Regions from separate parts of the Homo sapiens genome. Here regions 2 and 3 are each linked to region 1. The links come from fine-mapping of genetic effects on gene expression. A gene starts in region 1. Each other region holds a variant in brackets. All regions are shown on one strand. Distances are from middle to middle. Region 1 holds the start of SNED1 (sushi, nidogen and EGF like domains 1). Region 2 overlaps CROCC2 (ciliary rootlet coiled-coil, rootletin family member 2). Region 3 overlaps CROCC2 (ciliary rootlet coiled-coil, rootletin family member 2).

Region 1 (2,750 bases):
CCTTCCCCTCCCAGGCCCAGTTTGCCTCTCTGCAAACAGAATTGCCACCCCATGCAGGGTGGGAGAGGCGCCAGGGGCAAGCTTTCAGGAGGTGCCAGTGCAGGGTCAGCTCCTCCTTAACAATTCTGCACCCGGCCCTGACACCAAGTCTAAAGGGTCATGAACCTCTGAGTGAAAACACCAAGTGCAGGATCTGTGAGAACCGGCAACACCCAGTCACACGCAGAGAACCCTCCGCTGCTTCTTAAAAATAACATTGACTGTGCCTGGCTCTCACTGAAAAACAACACGTGCTCACTTGAGATATTTCAGAAGATACAAACGCAAAGACAAACAAAAAACCACCCAGCACCTCAGTGGTAGATGCAGTTACCATCAGCCCGGCCTTTCCTGCTTGTCTTCGAGGGGTGCACTCTTATCTTTGGGGGCCCCAGTGTGGCACGCAGCCAACACCACCCAACACCAGGATCTAAGAGAAGAGACCACGGTGGGCCGGGTGAGTTCCAGGAATCAGACCCTGCCATGGGCCTGGGGACATAGAGGTGGTCCCGGCTGAGGCCCTGAGGAAGGACAGACAGGCAGCCCAGGCCAGCAGCCCAAGAGACAGGGGGCAGGGCTGGCAGGCCACAGGGTGGGGACCCTGAATTCAAATACTGGGACTCAGAGTCCTGCCCCCACCTGCCAAGGCCGGTGTCATGCACGCACTTGCCCCCAGGGCCTGAGTGGGTCAGTCTTCCCCACGGAGGGTTTGCTTTACCCAGGGGTCGCCCCGAGGTCCCGAGCCTCCCAGGAATTTCTCCTGATGCGGCCACGCAGATGCAAACACTTTGTTCCATGCCTCCTAGTCTCCGGCCCGGGCTCTTCCTCACACAGACCCAGGCAGGGAGTGGGCTCCGGGGTTAGTCTGCCCCTGTGGCTGGAAGCCTGGCGTCCCCATGCTCAGGGCTGGGAAGGGGGCAGCACGGAACGGGTTCATTCAGGCACTGCCTGGCCAGGGTCCCCTCCCGCCCCCCGCGTGATGACACGCCTTCAGGGCGGGCCCAGCGTCTCAGGCCTTAGGGACACAGGTCTGTCCCAGGACGGCACTGAGGGCCCAGGCGCCTCCACCAGGGTAGGGACCCAGGGCGGAGCATGGCCCCACCACAGGGCGCGCGCCCGCAGAGCCCTCACCTTGCCTGTGCCCACGCCAGGGGACTGAGCTCCCCGCGCGCCCGCGCCCTCCCACGGGGCCTGGCGCTTTAAGAGACGCCCGATTTGCATGGCCCCGCCCCCCCGAGTGACCGCCGGGCTGGATATTTAAATCGTGGCCCCAGGGGCGGGGCTGGCCCCGAACGCGGTCCCGCCCGGCGCTTTCCTCTGCGGAGCTGCGGCGAGAGCGCGGCCCGGCCGAACGGGCGCGGGACGCGGAGCCCCCGACGGCGCGGCCAGCGGGCGCGCCCGCGCTCCCCGCACCCCGCCTGGCCCTGCCGGCCACCCCCGCGCGCAGCCTAGTCCCCCAGCGCCCTGCTCCGCCAGCGCCCCGTCCCGCCCGCACACCTCCGCGATGCGGCACGGCGTCGCCTGGGCGCTGCTGGTGGCCGCGGCCCTGGGGCTTGGGGCGCGCGGGGTGCGCGGCGCGGTGGCCCTTGCCGACTTCTACCCGTTCGGCGCCGAGCGCGGCGACGCCGTCACCCCCAAGCAGGACGACGGCGGCTCGGGGCTGCGGCCGCTCTCGGTGCCCTTCCCGTTCTTCGGTGCCGAGCACTCCGGACTCTACGTGAGTAACCCCCGGGCTCGCGGGGCGCCCGGGAGGGGAGGGAGCTGCGCCCCGGCCGCTGCCCGCCGGGCCCGGACTCCCGCCGCCGCCGCCAGCCACTTGGCACCGGGGCGGCCCGAGGTGGAATGAGGACAGCGCTTCCTCCTCGGCGGCCAAGGCCGGACAGCGGCCCGCGGGAGAGGCGCGCGGGCGGGGCGGGGGCGGCAGCCGCCGGGCACCGAGGCGGGGGCGAGTGGAGCGCGGCGCCCCGGCCCCTGCCAGACCTGCCGAGCGCGTCTTCCCGGCGCCTGATTCCCAGGGGAGAGCAGGGGTCCTGGTACTGCCCTGGTTTTCACACATGGCAATGTGGCCGTGGGCACGGGCTTCCCGGGCCTCAGTTTCCCAAGTGGGGCGCCGGGCCTGCGAAGGTTGCAGCCCCTCCTTGGGCCATTTCAGCCCCGCCCCCCGTGGACGCCAGTGCGGCCCAGAGCCAGGAGGCTGGACCCCTTGCCCAGGCGCTCAGGGCAGGGCCTGCTTCTTCGCTGACCCTCCTAGGCGGGCTAGCAACAGGCTTGCCCCTCCCTGCCGTCCTCTCCGCAGTCTGGGGGCTGGCCGCTCAGGCTCAGACTCTCCAAACAGGACTCCCAGTGGGACTCCTGGGGCCAGGGACTCATGACAGCAGGCTCAGCTCAGCTGAAGGAACAGGCCCGAGTGCCGGTTCTGTCTCCATGGCTCCCAGAGTGTGACCCCAGGCCAAGCCCTTATGGCAGCCCAGGGAATGAAATGCACCTGGTAACTGCATGGAGCACTCGCCCTGAGTAGGCCACGGTGCACTGGTACCTGGTGGTTCCCTGAAACACCCCAGATCATATCTAGAAAACTGCTGGGCCAGCCTCAAGTAGAGTCCCCTCCAGCTCCGTCACCACGGCCACCTCCACCATCAGCCCTCTCATACCCTCGCCCACCTCCAGCCTCAACCCACTGCCAGCCACATCGCCTCTGCCATCTGTGCTGC
Region 2 (2,750 bases), 51 kb before region 1:
TGAAAGAGGTGGTGGCAAGTGCAGAAACACAGCTCAGACCAGGGGAAGGCAGATGTGGAATGTCTTGCTCATGGAGCTGAGGAGTTCAGGGTGAATCCAACTTCAGGTATGGCTGGATTCAGGCACTCCCACAGTGCCCTCAGAATCCTGCTTCTCTCTCCCTCAGCACAGCTTGACTCTGAGATCTTTTTCCCAGGCAGGCTTACTCTGAGAGGTGGCAAGATGGCCAGCAGCCACCCCAGGGTCCCCCTTCCAGCAGATGCAGAGCACCCTTCTCCCTGCAAGGCCTGAGAGCGGCTGCCATGGGCCGTCTTGAGCTGTGTGACATCCCTGTACCAATCCTAGGAGCTGGGAGTCACAGGGCCTGATCCCAGGCTTGGGCTGCACACCCATCCCTGGAGCCAGAAGCAGGGTCAGCCCAGGGACACATGAGGTGGAGAGTGTGGGCGGGTGAGCCCAAAGGCCCTCAGGGCAACTCCCAGAAGTTGGGACGGGCACTCGCAGGCAAGAACAGGATGTGTGTAGGCTGTTGCCTGGTGATCTGAATGGGTCCTGCAGCCTCTGCAGAAACCCAACAGCTGATGGCTTCTGTGCCTTATAGGCCCTGCTTAGGGCCCTGCTCAGGCACTGCTAAGCATTTTTGTTGAAAAGATTTCCTCCTGGAATTCTAGAATCTGGGAGGCATGAGAAACCTTGGAGTCTGGGATCCTCGAGCTTCACAGACAAACCTCTTCTCCAAATGAAAGCTTGCACAGCAAGGAAAACCTGAGGGAGGCTGCTGCGGGTTGGGCTCCTGCCCATGCTCCCTCCTGGGCCCTGGGGGCTCCAAGGACCGGGGTGGAGGTCCCTTTCCTGCTGTCAGGGTCTACTGCCCAGAACACAGGCCCCAGCCAGAGCCCTCAGCAGCCTGGGTGCTGCCCTGACAGCTGCCCCTACCTCAGCCCTGCCACTGACCCGAGGTCCCTGCACATGGCAGCCCTGCAGGCCCCAGCATCACAGGCCACTGAACAGGGCATCCTGATGGCCCATTGAGCCTCTGGTGACAGAGGGGCTTGACCTGAAGCCACGTCTGCCCGGACACACTCTGTGTGTTTATCTGACTGGCCCAGTGGGGCCAGAGAGCGTGGAAGCTGCCATTGATGAGCTCGCAGGTAACATTCAGGACCATTAAGTGTGGGAAACCGTGCTGCAGCTCCTTGCTTCTGATGAGGCCTCCCCACGGGTCTGCTTTATGAAGGGCTCCACTCTCGGATCCTCAGGCCCTGACAAGGCTTCAGCAGTGGGGACCTGCTCCCTCCCTTCATGGAGTCCTGGCCCACTTGTCAGCCAGCAAGATGGACCAAGGTCCCCGCCAGCCCACACCCCAAGCAGCCCTGCCTTGCTCAGAGCACCCCGTGGTGGGCCAGGCCTCCAGTCCAGGGTCTCAATGGCAGAGCCCCTGGA[GT/G]TTCTCCTGGGCCCCCAAGGAGAGAGAGGCTGGGCACACGCTCAGGTCCCCAAGCTTCAGGCAAAGACATCTGATGTCTGAGCAGCAGAGGCCACATCCCTTACAGGAGACCAGGCGGGCCTCTAGGAGGAGGGGTTTCCAGGCTGACTTGAAGGAAAGGTTTCCTACACGCAGAAGGGGGAAGAGCTGCCAGGTGAAGAGAGCACTCAAGCCTGGGAGTGTTGGGATGGGGGCCATGAGGAACACTTACGGGAGGAGGGACCGGAGAGGGAGCAGAGTAGCATGCAGCAGAGTGAGGTCTCTGGGGGTTCTGACCTGAGCCCAGAGGACTTCCCTCTGCGAGCCCTGGCGAGCCCCAGAAGGCTTGGATGTGCTCTACCCCGATGAAGGGGGTGGCGGTGGCCAGAAAGATGGAAGAGAAATGGAGGCAGGGCCTGATCAGGAGCTGCCAGGGTCTCTGTGGCCCATGGCCCACCCTGACCTCATCTGTTTGGGGTTGTGCACCTACCATTTGTGTGTTCATATGGGTGTCTGTGTTTGAGTCTTTGTGATGTGTTTGTACGTGTTGTTTAATGCCTTGCTTTGTTCACGGATAAACACCCAGCACAGGGCAGCGAACAGCAACAATGAAACTTGCCATTGATGGTTGGATCATTGATGAATTAACTGTTAGAAATGTGAGGTCTTTTATCACCCCTCCCTCCCAGGAATGGGCACTGCTGTGTGTTGGTGTGTGCTCCAGGTGTCTTCTGAACAGTGGCATCTCCATGCACAAATGCACCAAGCAGGCTTTTCACATGATGGAATCACGCCGTATGTGGGGGTCCAGTTGCGTGCGTGGCTTTTTGGGGGGACTCTTTTCATGACATGAGAATAGAAAATAGTTTCCTCATCCTTGTTAACAGCACATGGTGCTCCAGAGATGCACCATAATTTCTAAAACATTCTTCCATTTATTTGCATTTCAGCTGAGTCTCATTAACACCTGTGTAAAGCTATAGAGAGCATTTTACACGCAGGATCTTGGGGATGACTTGCCCATTGTTTGCTGCATCTTTGCAGGGTGGAGAGGGACTCCCTGGAGAGCAGCCTCCTTGAGGCCCAACAGCTGGCCACAAAGCTGCAGGAGCAGCTGGAGGAGGAAGCCCGGAGCGCAGGACTCGCGCGGCAGGCCTTGCAAGGTGCTCCAAGGGCGCTCCCTCAGCTCCTTCCCCGAAAGTCAGCCATGGAGGGGCCCCTGGAATGGAGCTCAGTGCCCACACGTGCTGCACCCCCTCTCCGGAGCCCACAGGGGCATGAACATGAG
Region 3 (2,750 bases), 23 kb before region 1:
TTTTCAAAGAATCAATGTATCTCTTCTTTTATTTTTGTTTAGTTTATTGATTTCAGCTTTTATTTCTAGGAACACTCTATTTTTATTTTTAGTTTACTTTTTTTTTTTTTTTTGAGGGTCTTGCTCTGTCACCCAGGCTAGAGTGCAGTGGCATGATTTCGGCTCACTGCAGTCTCTACCTCCTGGGCTCAAGCGATCCTCCCACTTCAGCCTCTTGAGTAGCTGGGACTACAGGCACATGCCACTACACCTGGCTAACTTTTGTATTTTCTTTCTTTTTTTTCTTTTTTTTTTTTTTTTGTAGAGATGGTGTTAAACCATGTTGCCTAGGCTAGTCTCAAACTCCTGAGCTCAAGTGATCCACCCACCTCAGCCTCCCAAAGTGCTGGGATTACAGGCATGAGCCACCACACCCAGCCAACACCCTCTTTTTGTTGTAATTTTTCTTATTTCTTGAAAGGAATAAGTAATTTGTTTATGCTTGGGCTTTCTCTTTAATAGTAAGAGCATTTAATGTGATCCCATTTTCCCTAATTGTGGTTTGGTACGTGTCCCATCAGTTTTTGATGTGAGTTCTTTTCCTTTTTACCAGTTTTCTAGAAGTTTCCATTTTTATTTCTTCTTAAATTTGGGGGTTATTTGAAAGCATGAGTGTGTGTTTGTGCCACTTTTTATTGCTTACGTCATCTTCCTGGAGAGGCTGTGGCTTTGGGCAGGGATGACGGTTTTCTTTTGATCAGTGTCTGGGTGGATCTTTGTTTATGCTCCTGCTTTGTCAGTTGTTTATTGGTCGTTTGCTTTTTTGGTTTGGTTTTGTCTATTTGTTTGTGATGTGTTTAGAGAATACTGGACAAACTGATTGCAAAGTTTACAGGAAAGAATAGATGTTTGAGATTTTCCAAGAAAATTTTGAAAGTGAATAGTACAACAGGCTATAATGCTAGTATGGTCAAAGCAGGAGAGGCTGGTAGAATAGATGCAGAGGCAGCAGGGCAGGCCAGAGTCCAGAGGAGGCCCTGCCACCATGAACTGGCACCAGACCCTGCCCTCTGTCTGGCCCCAGAGTCCCACTGTGTGGAGTGAAGGGCTCCAATCCCCTTGTATCTGAGGACTGTCCAGAGCTAACTCTGTCCTGTGACTGGCCTGAGGGCAGGA[C/G]GGGGCAGCTCGCCAGTGCAGGGAGACCAGGGGATACCTGCCAGTGGGCAATCAAATTGGCCCATCGTCGCCCAGTGGATAAATGGGTATGAGGCTGAGGACCCCAATTCCAGAGCCCAAAGGATGGATTTGGCGAGTGTTTATGACGTGTCCTGTCCTTCTCTGTGCAGCCGGCAGGACGCTTAACGAGGCCTTTGTCCCTTCTGCTCCTGTTCAGATATTTCCCAGCCTTCGCTCCCAGCCTTCCATGCAAGCCCTTCATTTGTAACAGCTTCCCTGGGGGCATCTCAGAATCCAGCATCCAACCAGCCTGCTTTTTTTTTTTTTTTTTTTTTTTTTTTGAGACAGAGTTTTGCTCTCGTTGCCCAGGCTGGAGTGCAGTGGCACGGTCTTGGTTCACTGCAACCTCTGCCTCCCAGGTTCAAGTGATTCTCCTGCCTCAGCCTCCCAAGTAGCTGAGATTACAGGCGCCCGCCACCACGCCCGGCTAATTTTTTGTATTTTTAGTAGGACTGGGGCTTCATTGTGTTGTCCAGGCTGGTCTCGAACTCCTGACCTCAGAAAATCTGCCCATCTCAGCCTCCCAAAGTGCTGGGATTACAGGAATGAGCCACAGCGCCCAGCCCAGCCTTCTTTTGGTCTCAACGAGACCCCTGTGAGACTGCATCATACCCATGCCCCAGATGGGGAGACTGACACTGCAGCCCCACATGCTGGCTCCAAGACCGGGCTCATCCCTGCTCAGTCTCTGGGGTAGGAGCCTCAGAAGCCCAGGCTCATCCCTGCTCAGTCTCTGGGGTAGGAGCCTCTGGAGCCCAGGCTCATCCCTGCTCAGTCTCTGGGGTAGGAGCCTCAGGATCCCAGGCTCATCCCTGCTCAGTCTCTGGGGTAGGAGCCTCTGGAGCCCAGGCTCATCCCTGCTCAGTCTCTGGGGTAGGAGCCTCAGGAGCCCAGGCTCATCCCTGCTCAGTCTCTGGGGTAGGAGCCTCTGGAGCCCAGGCTCATCCCTGCTCAGTCTCTGGGGTAGGAGCCTCAGGATCCCAGGCTCATCCCTGCTCAGTCTCTGGGGTAGGAGCCTCAGGATCCCAGGCTCATCCCTGCTCAGTCTCTGGGGTAGGAGCCTCAGGAGCCCAGGCTCATCCCTGCTCAAGCTCTGGGGTAGGAGCCTCAGGATCCCAGGCTTATCCCTGCTCAGTCTCTGGGGTAGGAGCCTCAGGAGCCCAGGCTCATCCCTGCTCAAGCTCTGGGGTAGGAGCCTCAGGAGCCCAGGCTCATCCCTGCTCAGTCTCTGGGGTAGGAGCCTCAGGAGCCCAGGCTCATCCCTGCTCAGGCTCTGGGGTAGGAGCCTCAGGAGCCCAGGCTCATCCCTGCTCAGGCTCTGGGGTAGGAGCCTCAGGAGCCCAGGCTCATCCCTGCTCAGTCTCTGGGGTAGGAGCCTCTGGAGCCCAGGCTCATCCCTGCTCAGTCTCTGGGGTAGGAGCCTCAGGAGCCCAGACTCATCCCTGCTCAGTCTCTGGGGTAGGAGCCTCTGGAGCCCAGGCTCATCCCTGCTCAGTCTCTGGGGTAGGAGCCTCAGGATCCCAGGCTCATCCCTG

What was found. PIP is the estimated chance that this variant, and not a neighbour inherited with it, causes the effect.
Region 2: its variant is the best candidate, but not a certain one, in a credible set for the expression of SNED1 in whole blood (INTERVAL, PIP 0.52).
Region 3: its variant is the best candidate, but not a certain one, in a credible set for the expression of SNED1 in whole blood (INTERVAL, PIP 0.78).

The regions. Positions count from the first base shown.
Region 1 is chr2:240,997,295-241,000,044 of GRCh38, forward strand. It overlaps SNED1 (sushi, nidogen and EGF like domains 1), which reads left to right and starts at 1,324. Exons shown (of 32, transcript NM_001080437.3): 1 at 1,324-1,756. The coding sequence starts at 1,544. RefSeq lists a silencer at 956-1,375.
Region 2 is chr2:240,946,473-240,949,222 of GRCh38, forward strand. It overlaps CROCC2 (ciliary rootlet coiled-coil, rootletin family member 2), which reads left to right. Exons shown (of 32, transcript NM_001351305.2): 16 at 2,507-2,625. Among named protein-coding and RNA genes, the nearest start is that of UICLM, 20 kb to the right of the region's middle. RefSeq lists an enhancer at 2,652-2,750. The variant GT/G (reference allele first, on the strand shown) is at 1,444.
Region 3 is chr2:240,974,251-240,977,000 of GRCh38, forward strand. All of the region lies in intron 27 of CROCC2 (ciliary rootlet coiled-coil, rootletin family member 2), which reads left to right. Among named protein-coding and RNA genes, the nearest start is that of UICLM, 8.2 kb to the left of the region's middle. The variant C/G (reference allele first, on the strand shown) is at 1,156.